Homo sapiens: one gene and its partners. The protein of the gene in region 2 interacts with the protein of the main gene of each other region in a biochemical or structural test. Each region holds a gene or a part of one and is shown on either strand. Other genes may lie near its edges.

The links. The genes of interacting proteins can lie anywhere in the genome.
Region 1: the proteins of PARD3B (region 2) and SEMA4F interact in a test that uses a peptide from one of them, tested with the Homo sapiens proteins (one large-scale study listed by IntAct).
Region 3: the proteins of PARD3B (region 2) and ABCA1 interact in a test that uses a peptide from one of them, tested with the Homo sapiens proteins (one large-scale study listed by IntAct).
Region 4: the proteins of PARD3B (region 2) and CBY2 interact in a test that uses a peptide from one of them, tested with the Homo sapiens proteins (one large-scale study listed by IntAct).

Annotation. Positions count from the first base shown.
Region 1 is NC_000002.12:74,657,247-74,660,746, forward strand, and holds part of SEMA4F (semaphorin-4F isoform 1 precursor), read left to right. Parts: intron 1-318; coding exon 319-378; intron 379-606; coding exon 607-705; intron 706-3,500. UniProt on the Homo sapiens protein: Probable cell surface receptor that regulates oligodendroglial precursor cell migration. Might also regulate differentiation of oligodendroglial precursor cells. Has growth cone collapse activity against retinal ganglion-cell axons.
Region 2 is NC_000002.12:205,612,475-205,615,974, forward strand, and holds part of PARD3B (partitioning defective 3 homolog B), read left to right. Parts: intron 1-2,981; coding exon 2,982-3,339; 3' UTR 3,340-3,500. UniProt on the Homo sapiens protein: Putative adapter protein involved in asymmetrical cell division and cell polarization processes. May play a role in the formation of epithelial tight junctions.
Region 3 is NC_000009.12:104,921,656-104,925,155, reverse strand, and holds part of ABCA1 (phospholipid-transporting ATPase ABCA1), read left to right. Parts: intron 1-2,613; exon of another isoform or gene 2,614-3,044; intron 3,045-3,500. UniProt on the Homo sapiens protein: Catalyzes the translocation of specific phospholipids from the cytoplasmic to the extracellular/lumenal leaflet of membrane coupled to the hydrolysis of ATP.
Region 4 is NC_000013.11:45,708,820-45,712,319, forward strand, and holds part of CBY2 (protein chibby homolog 2), read left to right. Parts: intron 1-3,500.

The DNA of each region.
Region 1 (3,500 bases), about 130 Mb from region 2:
AAGGGATGCTCAGTGTATACTGTGTATTGTGGTACACAATTATGTACTGAAAGAAACCTTTCTTGAAACAATATCTACCTCTTATATGTGATACATTTTGATATATTCTATTTCATTAAAAATAATGTTGGTCATGATTTCAGAATTGATTTTATTACTCATTAATGGGTGGGGACCTCCATTTGAAAAACAATGCTCTAGGGGGACTTTTGAAGTTCCCAAATTGATGGAGGTTATAGAACAGTTTAATCTCCTCTAACATCGAGGGAGTTTGATGTTAGGGGAATCTGGGTGAAATGATCACTTCTCCTTTCTCAGATTGACTGGATGGTTCCTGAGGCTCACAGACAGAACTGTAGGAAGAAAGGCAAGAAAGAGGTAGGTGTAAATCTGAGCCCTGTCTTGAGTGTCAGTTGAGACCTTGGCCCAGCCCTGACTCTCAGTCCCCTGTAATGCTTCCATACCAATGGGCCCAGGCAGAGACTCTAACACCATGCCATCACCCATCATCTCTGATCCCAAAGCTGCATCTAACTGTCCTGACGTTACCTTACCCTTCCTCGTACCTGCTGCTTCTGATTCTTTCTAACCGTCTCTGACCCCCAGGACGAATGTCACAATTTTGTCCAGATTCTCGCCATTGCCAATGCCTCTCACCTCCTCACTTGTGGCACCTTCGCTTTTGATCCGAAGTGCGGGGTTATTGTGAGTGACGGTGTGGGAGGAGAGGGAGAGGGTGCCTGCACCAGTGTGAGTTACTTGGGGTGGTGGTGGGAGGATGGGAAGGGTTTTCTGTGAGCGACCATGATGGGGGCATGGTCAAGGCAACCATTGTGCATGATAAGCATTGGGTGTAGGGGCTGTCCTCATGGGATGAGGGTATGTGTAAGCCACTGAGGGAGGGAAAGGGAGGTTGTCTGGAGAGGGTAAGATATACAAAGTGTGAAGAGAGACATAGTGGGATAGTTAAGGAAGTTAGGGATGCTGGTTGGGCTGGGGAAACAACAAATCCAGGGAGAGACTTCAGAAACCAGAAACTCATGTTTCCCTTGCCCTGTGTATGCTTTGTCCAGGCAGCCTGTGTCCATTTCTTAATTAGTACAGCCCATTGCCTGTTTCTTCCTTTCACAGCATGTGACTGTCTCTTACCACCTTCTCCTACTTCCACTGCCAACCTCATTGTATATGGGCTGTGAGTCTCTCCTCTCATGGCTTCTGATGTCACTTCCACTAATGTAATATCTGCTGGCCCCATATTCTGGATCTTGCCTTCAGGGCGGGCACTCTGTCAATCATGTTTTCTTATAGATCCTGTTTATTGCTGCTGAAGGCCTGGACATCACCAGCCTCAAACACAGGCAGGCTTGGGACATGTGTATCCTAATCACATCTAGGCTAGTCATGATCTCTGGGACTGATGACTGTTTCTGAATTCTCAGCTTTTCCCATCTGTTACACAGTAGTCAGCACTGGTCTTTTGGCAGCTCACATTTGTGACAAGCCCCTGGCGTGAGTCAGAAGCCTCACATATCCTTTATATCCAGTGGCTTCTCTTTCTGCTCTGTAGAGCAATAGGAGGGAGTATAACTGCTCCCTTTTTTGACCTCATCCTTAACTGTAGATCTTGTCTTGACTCTTCTGCAGTCCTCAGTAATCCCTGCCACCTGGATCAAGTCAGTGTGTATCTCTAAACCCCTCTTTGTTACATACCACCCTCATATCTCTGGCTTAGGATGCTAATCATAATCATATGCATGATTGCTCCAGTTAGTCCCCCTGGGCTGCCTTGGGGTGGGTTGGACTTATGTTAAGTCCTTTTCATAATGCAGGTGATACACACTCCCTACCAGCATCTGGATAGCTCCCTCATTCTGGAAAGGTTCGCAGTTCAGGGTGTTGGTGAAAATCTCTGTATTCCCTCAGGTAACATTGAGGTCTAATTTCCCTACAGTTCTCCTTAAGTTTATAAGGTAGCAATGGTACTGCCATTGCCATATTTGTCCTTTTCCATTCTGCCAGGCTTGGGGATCCCATGGGTATGAATCCCAGAGCCATGGCTTATAGACAGTGTGATTGTTCTAAGTTAGTCTCCTAGGGCCTTTAATTCTTCCTTGTTTCTCTGAGGTGGGACTCTAGTGGTTGTTACATAAGGTATCTAGACAGAAAATGTTCTTTCTGGACATACCTGTCAGGATTGGTGTGACTTGGATGCCTATCTCTTCTTGAGGAACATCAGCAATGAAGAGTGAAGCCAGGGGTCTGTGTCCTGAGCTCCCAAGAATTCAGCTCTTTTCCTGAACTCTCCTGTCTAGCAGGCTTATGAAATGAGGGCCCATCCTTTGGTCAAGGCTTGTTTGAAGGAGAATATAGAGACTAGCCGCAAGAGGTCAACTCTGGTAACCCTTTGAGCCACATCCTGTCTGCTCTGTAGACGTTTTGAAAGTTCTCTTCTGCCTTAACCTGTCTTATCCTACTACCCAGCAGCCCCAGTCTGCTTGACCAAGTTCTTCCTTTATCCTCACTGCTGAACCTCTCATGTCCTAGACTGATGACTTTGAGACTGTATATAAACAATTATCTGAGAGCTTTGTTCCAGACATAGCAACTTGATCAAAGTTGATTGTGGAGAAATGAAGGTTCTTACATAAAGGAAATTCCAGCATTGGATCTAAGGGCTCCCACTGTGGAGTGCTGTCCTTCAGTGATAGCTCATTGGACATTGGAGGAAAATATCCTAATTTGTTTTGTTGAGGGACCTCTAGCAGTTAACAGAGAAAAATGTTAGACTTCTAACAACAACAACAACAAACAGCAACAATGACAACCATTCAGTTGAGTGTCTGCTCTGATGAAGACTTGGTATTAGGTACTTTACATTAAGGATTAAGTTTAATTCTTATCACCACATCATGATATTTAGGTATTATTTCCATTTTACAAGTAATGAAACTGAAGTTCAGAGAAATTAAGTATTGTCTCTAAGACTGAATAGCTAGCAGAGGCAGAACCAAAATTTAAACCTGTGTTTGTCTCTGGCTCTGTTCCACTATCCTGTCCCTCTAGTCTAGCCTGCAGCCCAGAAGACCTTATCTGTCTTCAATTTCTTGTGGCATTTGATGTGTTTCATGTACTAGGAACCATCTTTCTTTTCTTTGCTTTTTTTCTTAGCCACCTGGGAAAGGTCCTTCCTATGCCTTAAACTCCTCTTGGCCAAGGCCAAAGGACCAGTTCCAACCCATAGCTCAGAGAGAGCCTTCCTGTCCAGCTCCAGCTTTCAGCTTCAGGGACTTTGCTTTACCACAGCTGATTCTCAGAGACTATGCTGCTGACTAACACAATGATGATACAATGAAGAATCTCAACATTCAGATAGATAATATAGTGGAGTGGTCATGTCTCTTTCAGACCCGAGTTAAATGTCATTTTGACCATGCAATAATCATAACCTATCTAGTTAATAGGAGGCTCACCTCTTCAAAGGTTAGAAACCTGGATGATAT
Region 2 (3,500 bases):
ACACATAATAGTCAGAAGAACTTAGAAGTTGTTCTGACAAAAGTCTGTAGGAAATTCTGTTATGAACAAAATGTTGTTATAAACAACAGCTACACACCATCCCCCAAAATAAAGAAAAATTCTTCTAGCACTCTTTGAACCTTAAACAGTGTTTTAGTAGGCCAACTCATTGTTTTTCTTCTCTCTGAAAAATTAAAAATGCTAACTGTTATGATGAGTTCCACAGAAAAAGACAATTTCCATGACTTCATTTCTTGACAAAGAACAGCTACCTCTCTTGCTTTCTGCCACATACAAGCAAACTCCCAGACATAAAACCTCCCCTCAGAGGAAGCAATATGGGACCACAAAAGTATCTTGAGGTCTGCCCTATCTGCCCACGGGAAGCCTCCCCCTCACTGTGAGCTGTGAGCACTGGCTGCCTGGGAGGAGCAAGGTGTGGGAGAAGAGATAGCGACTGTCCCCCCATGTGCTCGCCGACTGTACTGTCACAACCTCTCAGGGTGGCTTCTGCCCTGTCACCACTTGATCTGGATTCTCTCTCCAAAAATTTAAAAAAACAAGGCGTGCCTGTCTTTTATAATGCTCTGTTTTAAGAGAGAGAAATCTCCAGGGAGAGAACAGGACCCTAAAAGTCCAAGGCCTGGAATTCTTCCTTTCTCTCTTTCCATTTTAAACAGGAAGCATTCATGCTAAGAGAGTCCGGAGGGAGGGCTGGTTGTATGTTCATTTGAAGGCAAATAATGTTTGTGTGTTGCAAATGTCAGTGATTTATCCTAAGGGCTTAAAATGAGTGCAGAAAAACCACATGTTTCACTTCATGCAGAGAAATATCTTCAGTGGATTTTGAGAGAAAGTACAGGTTAAGAAAAATTTTTTGAGTGTATCGGATATCTCCAACATGAACCAAAAGGAAATGAAAATGAGCATGGTGAGGTGGAGGAGAGAGACTTAAAGAATTCTTATGATAAAAGATATACCGAAGGCTGGAAGTTTTCTAAATCAAAAATGAAATTCTAAAGAAAGGGAAAGGTGAAATCCAGAGCCTTTATTTCCCATGGCTAGAGTGACAGATTATCCATTTGTGCTCCATTTGTCATGGGCGATTTAAAATACAGCAAAGCAAACTGCACTGAATAATAGCAGCTGATGCTATAATAACTTGTACACAAACAATTTAATTTTTTATCTGAAAACTCTAACTAAATTACCCCAAGCTCAAGGATCTTTCATTATTATACATAGCCAAATTAAGACAAAAAAGTAGAGAGAATTCTATTGTTCATCCTTATAGATTTGTTCACAAGCTGCTTTCTACATGCACCGAGCTGGGAGCTTGTCAAATCTTCATTGATTTGAGCAACTTACAGAGCTGTTTTAACATCCACCTCCACAGATTACAGGGTGATTCTGACCCTCATTGACAGTGCTTGATTAACCACAGACACTGTATTCTCACAGCCCTGTCATTTCTTTCAAGTGTCCTAGCAGTGTGTCTGACATTGGGGAGCTTTCCCTTAATTATTGTTGTTGTTTTTCTTTTTTAAAAATTATAAAAGGGGGAGTGGCAAAAAAATGGGAAGGATCTGGGGATGGTGGTGGTGGTGAATGTGTGCACAGAAGGTTTATGAGATTTTAAGAGCTGCAAACAGAACTCATCTGTTTAACCCCAGGCTAGATAAAATGCAGTCATCTGCACATTGTTTAGAGGCACACTGCTTCTGTTATGGCAAACGGATCAGAAGATGCTTGTTTTCTTTAGTGAGAGATCCAGACAGGGCCACTTTCTGTTAGTGTCTATTCTTACCCTGGATGTTTCTGTGTGCCTTACCCATTACAAGGTACAACTTACAGCTGGTTTGGCATTTCCCTATTCTGCTACTGGACTGGTGCTACTTCCTGGCTTTGTGGTAGAGTTGATTACTTTATATCAAAGCTTTAGGTGTGGGCTGGGTGCAGTGGCTCACGCCTGTAATCTCAGTACTTTGGGATGCCGAGCCAGGCAGATCACCTAAGGTCAGGAGATTGAGACCAGCCTGGCCAACATAATGAAACCCATCTCTACAAAAAAAAATACAAAACTTAGTCAGGTGTAGTGGTGGGCACCTGTAGTTCCATCTACTCGGTAGGCTGAGGTGGGAGAATCGCTTGAACCCAGGAGGCAGAGGTTGCAGTGAGCTGAGATCGCACCATTGCACTCCAGCCTGGGTGACAGAATGAGACTCCCTCTCAAAAAAAAAATTAAAAAAAAAAAAAGAGCTCTAGGTGCTCTGGCTTGGGACTTTTTCTAAGGACTGTAGAGCATTTAGGGAGGGGAGGGACATATGAATCCACACCAAGATGTAACAGCAGCCAACCAGAGTTAGACCAAGATGACAGCCCGTTTAAAAGAGCACCTCACAGATTTAGAAAAGCGAGTGCAGTCCATGGAAACTTTATGACTCCAAATAACCTGAACATTTCTATCACCATGCCTAGGACAGACTTCAGCCCAGCCTGTCCTGGATATGGTGGTAGAAAAGGGGAGGGAACTAATGACCCCATCCTTAAGAGAGGCAAACTCACTGCCTTGTTTAGGAAACTAGTTTGGTTACTATAATAAAGGCCAACAGAAAAGGGTATAAACCAGATTGAAGTGTATTTTCCTCTCATGCACCAATGTGAATGGAAGCAATCCTGATTGACATGGTGGCTCCATGGCAACGGGGACCCAGGCTCTCACCTTCTTGTTGCTCTGCCTCCCATAGCACGTGGTTTTCACCTTGTGGCCTAAGATGGTTTTTCTGCTGGCCAACAGGAAGGAGAGAAGGGAAGAAGTTCCCTTCTCTTCTTTTTAAGGGCACGTATCACTTCTGCTCCCATCCCATTGGCCAGACCTATGCGGTGGCCACACCAAACTGCACAGGAGGCTGAGGAACATGTTCTCCAGCCGGACGGCCAGCTTAGGAGCTGCTAACATGTGTCTCTTCTTCTCTTTCCAGGGGAGGACCCGCAGATCCTGTAGACTATCTGCCAGCAGCACCTCGGGGGCTCTACAAGGAAAGGGAGCTTCCCTATTATCCAGGGGCTCATCCTATGCACCCTCCCAAAGGGAGCTATCCCCGCCCCACAGAGCTCAGGGTGGCAGATCTCCGGTATCCTCAGCACTACCCACCCCCGCCAGCTCCCCAGCACAAAGGACCCTTTCGACAAGACGTTCCGCCTTCCCCTCCCCAGCACCAAAGAATGCCAGCCTATCAGGAAACAGGCAGACCAGGGCCCCGTGGGGGCAGCCCAGACCAGTACCCTTACCGAACCCAGGATTCCCGGCAGAAGAACCCCATGACTGCAGCCGTATAGCTGAGTGCCACCGAGGCCAGCCCGGTCCAGAAAGGAAGGTGTCTACTCTACCTTTGCCCTTTCTAAACCTGAAGACCTCCTTGGTGTTAGGAATTCTCCATGTTACTGATAAGCTTTTTCTCACTGACATTGTAACGCATGACTGCTAATCAGAGAGAAAA
Region 3 (3,500 bases), on a different chromosome or scaffold from region 2:
CCACCCGCCTCGGCCTCCCAAAGTGCTGGGATTACAGGCGTGAGGCACCGCGCCCGACCCCTGGACACATTTTGACTTAGAACATATTTTCGGTTTGTGTGAGACAGTGCATTAGTGCAGGATTGGAAAAGAGTGATCAGGAATTGATTGTTTTCAAGGATTGGTTCCTTCTGCTCAAGGAAGTCCCATTGTAAACATAAAAAAATGAATGAAACTGAAGAAGTTCAGTGACTTAGCTTTTTATTATCTTCTGTAGTACTTACCTTTTTGGAGAGGAGTTGGTTGGGATATTTTTCCATTTAAATTTTTTTTTTAAAGGGATCTTCTCTCCCGTAAGCCGGGATACTTAAGCTATATATGTAGTGGCTACAAATTAAGGTCTTCACTGTTTTCATTTTTAGCTGCTAGAATAAGTGAACATTACCTTAGATAGACTCTTCTAATTATGAAGATATCTAGATGTCTAGAAAATATCAAAATGCATGTGGTTTTTGCATTTCTAAAATACTTTTAAAACCAAATACTTTTTCTTTTTTTTTTTTTTCTGAGATGGAGTCTTGCTCTTTTGCCTAGGCTGGAGCGCAGTAGAATGATCTTGGCTCACTGCAACTTCCGCCTCTCAGGTTCAGGTGATTCTCCTGCCTCAACCTCCTGAGTAGCTGGGATTACAGGTGCGTGCCACCACACCCGGCTAGTTTTTGTGTTTTTAGTAGGGACAGGGTTTCACCATGTTGGCCAGGCTGGTCTCAAGCTCCTGACCTCAAGTGATCTGCCAGCCTCAGCCTCCCAAAGTGCTGGGATTACAGGCATGAGCCACCACACCTGGCCTCAAATACATTTTTTTAAGTATCCAGATATTAAATAAATAATACCATTATAGTAGTTGTTATGGTCATTTACTCTAGCATCAAATGTTAAAAGATCATTCTGAACACTTGTTTTGTTTATGCTGAGAGAAGGCCTACTCCAAAAAATGCAACCATCTTCGTATCTGCATGTGGATACAACCATGAATGGCCAAAGTTATTGCAGTGTTGAATAGACACTTATATAGCACTGTGTGGCAAGTACTGTTTGAAATGTTTTTCACGTGTTTATTCATTGTATTTATTTTGAGATAGGGTCTTGCTCTGTTGCACAGGGTGGAGTGCAGCTGCACAGACAAGGCTCACTGCAACCTCAGCCTCCTGCGCTCACGTGATCCTCATACATCAGCCTCTTAAGGAGCTGGGGCCACAGGCACGCACCACTGCTCCTGGCTAAATTTTTACAATTTTTTGTAAAGACAAGGTCTCACTATCTTGCTCAGACTGGTCTTGAACTCCTGGGCTCAAGTGATCCTCCCACATCAGCCTCCCAAAGTGCTGGGATTACAGGCATAAGCCACTGTGCAGGTCATCAAATGCTAATTGAATTTTCACAACAAAACCATTTATTGTCCCTAGTTTACAAGATTAAGTAAATGAGAAGCTAATTTTTCTCTGGCTATATACCTTGCAAGAGGCAGAGCTAAGACTTGAACCCAGCCAGAGTTCTTTAACTCCAGCACTAACATTTCAGCTGCTGCAACCAGGGAGCTTTTCAAGGATGATCACCACATTCTCTACATTCATCTGCTATAATCCTTATCAGAATCTACAGCCTGTATCATATTTTCCTTGTTGCTGTGAGTGGGTCAGCCAAATTCTCTTTAACTTGAAACCTTGGTTGCGTAGGGATTGCAACATCCTGGAAAGAATAGAATAAAATTTACTCAACTCAATTTTTTACTTGGTTCATAATGAAAACTATACTATTGCTTCAGTCAGATGTTTGCGAATAGCTGTGTGATCTCAAAATGTTTTCCTATGTGATCTATAGAAAATGGAATGATAGAGTATTAGGCTGTAAGGGCCTAAGAAACAAAGGAAAAAGAGAAGTGAACTGTTAGTTTAGTTGTAAAACCTAACTTTGGTGAATTGTAAAAATTTGTTATAATACAATATGATTCTTGCTTGTCCTGTCCTTGATGAAGTTGTGGACCTTTTGAAATAAGCTATTTCTCTGTTACTGCTGTTACTGTTTAGAAATCAAATTTAGTTTTTTCTTAAGATATACGTATTTTTGGAAGATAAACACAGTTTCAAAGTCTGCCTTGTTGGCTGGGTGCACTGGCTCATTGTTGTATTCCCAGCACTTTGGGAGGCCAAAGCAGGAGGATCACTTGAGGTCAGGAGTTCAAGACCAGCCTGGCAAATATGGTGAAACCCCGTCTCTACTAACAATACAAAAATTAGCTGGGCGTGGTGGTGGGTGCTTGTAATCCCAGCTACTGGGATTGGGAGGCTGAAGTAGAAGAATTGCTTGAACCTGGGAGGCGGAGGTTGCACTGAGTCGAGATCGTGCCACTTTACTCCAACCTGGGCGACAGAGTGAGACTCCGTCTTGAAAAAAAATGTCTGCCTTGTAAAAGTGAAATAGGATGAGAAAGTGCCTTTCTTATTAATTGGTGTAATGAATTAGAAATAAACTCTTTGAAGACACCTCTTGGTAAAAATAGTTACATTTACTGTTGATTTATGGTATGTTGGATATGTTTTTAAGTTTTCCGTGTAATAACTCAGTTCATTCTCATGAGTGAAATAGGTGCTTTTATTGTCTTTATAGATGGGAAACTGAGGTATAGGCAGGCTAGGTACATTATTATGGAGTTCGTAAGTAGTGGAGCTGAAGTCGCATCCCAGACAGTTTGGCTTCCGTGAGTTTACCAATCTCATGGTAAAGACTTTGTCAGACTATCAAAGTTTTGACAAATGAAATATTAGCAAAAGGCCAAAAGGGATTCTCTATTTTCATTTGAGTATCTTCACCTGAAAATAGTTGCCTGAATAAGTAGCCTGCATAGAAAGGTACATTTTAGAAATACTTGAGGCCAGAGAATGAAAAGCTTACATAAAATTGATTTCCGGTGGGGCCTTCAGTTACTCTCCATTCTACGAAGACCACAAATAGCATTCAGGCAAAGAGCATTTATTCCAACAATGGAGGAGCACTGGATTTGGTTCCTAAAACAAAATAAAGTTTGAAATCCTGTCTTTCCCATGTTGAAAACAAAGTTGGTACAAAACCCTTTAGCTTTTGCAAACCTCCTTTAAGACCCGATTTAAATGCTTCCCTCCTCATGAAGCTCTTCTGGATCCACTCCTTCCCATCACTAAGTTGAAAGTAAGATCCCCTTCTCTTTACTTCCATTAGACTTGGATTACAGCACTCTTTGTATCATGTATTTAATTCTGTTTTTTAATTACAGTTAACATTTATTTGTCTTCCTCTTGAGTGTATGCTTCTCTAGAGGAAGGTCTTTGATTCATTCTCCCCTGGCCTTAATTCATCCCACTTAATATGGAAAAAATTTAATAAATGCTGACTTGAATAAGTCCAACAAGGAGAATGGGAAGCTCATGTTTGCTTCCTGTCTTCTAAAAGACTACTTAAGATAACAGGGTAATCACAGAAAAGCA
Region 4 (3,500 bases), on a different chromosome or scaffold from region 2:
TTTCTTGGTCCTGTCTGAGGATAGGAGGAAAGATAATAGGACTCAGTCATTGGAGAAGAATTTGGTTTCCTGTTGAGAAAGTAAAGGGGACTTATTTGTCCATCAGCATTTCCTGGATTAGGTGCTGTGGGCATGGAACAAGAGAAGGCACAAAGCCTGCTTGGGAAGAGTTGGCCATTTAGGGGAGAGGACGAGATGCCAACTAGGTTGGTAAAAGAGGGCTGCTGGGGCCATAGTGGTGCCAATTTACAAATGCAAATCCACTGGACCAGAGACAGTTAGGCCAAGAGAGCACTTAGAGATAATGACTCTTACCCTTCATTTTACAGAAGTGGAAACTAAGGTCAGAAAGTGAGTGGATATGAGCAAGATCACCTGAATGTGTGAATAAAGACCAGGGCACAAACACCCAGGTTGTCCGTGGCTAGGGATCCACCATATGTTAAGGTTTTGTTTAGTGTATTTCTGTTGAGGGGATGACAGAATGTTCCTTGGGTACCCAGTGTGGAAGGTGGATGTAGAACACAGGCAGCTGAATGCCATGGGTTAAAAGCCATCATGGCCAAATATGGACAGGTAGAAAGCATCCATGATTCCTCTTTGGACCCTTAGTTGGATCAAGAAGATTGTCTCTCTGGCTGAAACAAAACGATCGTTAAAAAGAAATGAGAATTGGGGAAATTTGAACATGGGCTCAGTATTCGCAGATATTGAGGGATAATTGTTAAATGTTAAAGGGTGATAATGGTATTGTGATTCTGTTAAAGAGGCACATATTTATATATTTGTGGATAAGATGACACAATGTCACTTTGCTTTAAGATAACCTAGCGGTAGGGGAGTGGTTGTGGAATCAGGTTGAGGCCTGGTGAAACAAGTGTGGCCTTGATTTGATACTTGGTGAAGCTGAGTGATGGGTACATGGACATTTATTAGACTATTCTCTCTCTTTTTGTGTATGTTTGAAATTTTCCATCATATAAATTGAAGGAAAAGATATCATGTTCCCCAAAGTACTGCAGGACTTTTGATAAATCCATGGTGGTTTCCCATGTGTGTACTTCACACATAGAAGGTCAGGGAGCCAGAAGTGGGTTTGTGTCTTAGTGAAGGAGCTAGTGCTGGTTATTTAACATCTCTGAGTTTCAGTTTCTCCATCTGTAAAATAAGAATAGTAATAATATCTTACATGTCAGTGTGGTGAGGATAAAATGAATTTAGTAGGTAGAATGCTCAGCTCACGGCCTAGCATGAAATTGAGGCTTAATATTTGTTTCCTTCTTCCATTTTCTTCTCAGGACTGGGATGCACATGTTGACTAAAACCACATTTTTCCATGTTGATAGCTTCTGGAGTCAAATCCTGCTGAGATAAAGTATTAGTTCTAGTGCAAGGATGGAGAGAACCTCTTAAGATTCACTCCTGCCAGGCACGGTGGCTCATGCCTATAATCCTAGCACTTTGGGAGGCAGAGGCAGGCAGATCACAAGGTCAAGAGATCGAGACCATCCTGGCCAACATGATGAAACCCCGTCTCTACTAAAATACAAAAAATTAGCCAGGCGTGGTGGCACGCGCCTGTAGTCCCAGCTACTCTGGAGGCTGAGGCAGGAGAATTGCTTGAACCCGGAAGGCGGAGGTTGCAGTGAGCCGAAATCGTACCACTGCACTCCAGCCTGGGCGACAGAGTGAGACTCCGTCTCAAAACAACAACAACAACAACAACAAAAACCACCACCACAACAAAACATTCACGTCTTTGGCTTTGACCAGTCTTCCCAGAAATCCTGGATCTCAGGACCTTAAACCTATCAGAAAATGGTCTAGGTTATCCACAGTGAGGTTCATTCTGATCACAGACAGCTACAGGAGCCAATCTGCTTTCCCAGTTGAGAAATGTGAAAACCAGGGAGGCTGAACTTTTTTAAACTAAATAAAATTCCGCTTGCAGAATGCCCTCATACCCTTGCTATCTGGAAGATTGAGCGTATCCTTACAAAGTTAATGACATGTGCTTATTGCAAAGTTAATGGCATAGAACTGCATCTTCTATTTATCTAGCTCTTTAAGTTTTAAAGAATTCTAACCAACTTTATATACCATGCAAATTGTGTTTCTCTCTCTACATACACCCACACATATATATATAATGTAGTTAGCCTGACTTGTTTTTTATTTTCTCTATCTGTACGGTTGTGAAAGTAACCTAAGACATAAGGAATTGATATCTGGAGAGCATTTTGATATACTTGGATGAAGTACTTTTGGTGTATTTGGAAGTAGCTATCATGATCTGTTTACTTAAATTCATGGCTGCAATCATCACCTCTTCTCTAGTGTGCATTCTACTTGCTCACTTCTTTTTGAATACATCTTATAATTCTTGCATTAGTGAAATCTACTCTTCTTGATAATAATACCTTATGGTTCTTTGGCACTGTTGGTTTTAAAAATATTTTTGCATTCATTATCTCATTTAATCCTCACAACAGTGTTGTGAACTAAGCAGGGCACATATTATTTCTATTTTACAGGTATATTTCATTGACTTTTCAATGTTGGAAGGTGCCTTTAAGATCATGGAGCCCGACTCCCTCTTTTTCACTCGTGAAAAGTCTGGGTCTCAAAGAGGATAAGAGAGCTGTCTGGTTTCAAAGTGCCCATCAGTGACAAAATCAGGATGAGAATTCTTGTGACCTTTCAGTCTGTAATGCTGGTGCAACCCTCACTTAAGCAAATTGCCTATTCTACTTGACTTAGATCTGTCCTAACCACCTGCAGCCAGGAACACCTGAAGGAGCTGGTTAGAAATGCAGATTCCTGGGCCACACCCCAGTCTGAGTAAATCAGACTCACAATGGGAGGCTCAGAAATCTGCATTTAAAACTCACTGGAGTTATTTTTCTGTACTGGGATGTGTGAAAGCTACCAGCTCATTGGAGTTAAGCTCTGTGGATCTGAGCCCCGTTTTATGCTGTGGTCTTGAGGTCTATGGCCACCATCATGAATTCCTCAGGGTCCTTGACTGGCTTTATCACCACATGTTGAACGCTCATTGCTCAGTGATATGTCTGGGATGGGTTTTCTTTCTTTCCAAAATTATTAGTTAGACTCTGCTTTGAGTCTAGCATTGCATTAGAAGCTGGGGTGAATGTTTAAGGGGCTGCTAGCAGAAAAGACTCAAGGGTGGCTAAGAGTGAAGGATATGCCCAGATGGGCAAGAGAGAAGGCTGGGCTGACCAACGGCACCGCCATTTTGGACACAGCAATTTGGGTGGCTGTTTGGATGATTCATGCTGCTTCTCTGCTCATGCTAAGTGTGAGTACACATCTGTGGGTGGTGGCCCTTGAGAACAGTGTTTGTTCCTCCTTTAGGGTGACAGAATGTGCCAGAGCCCATGCTTAGTGCTTTTGTACATTGCCTTTTTTAATCCTAAAAATGTCTCTATGAGGCAAGGAGTAAATGCAATTATCCCAATTTGAAAATGTGGAAATTAAAG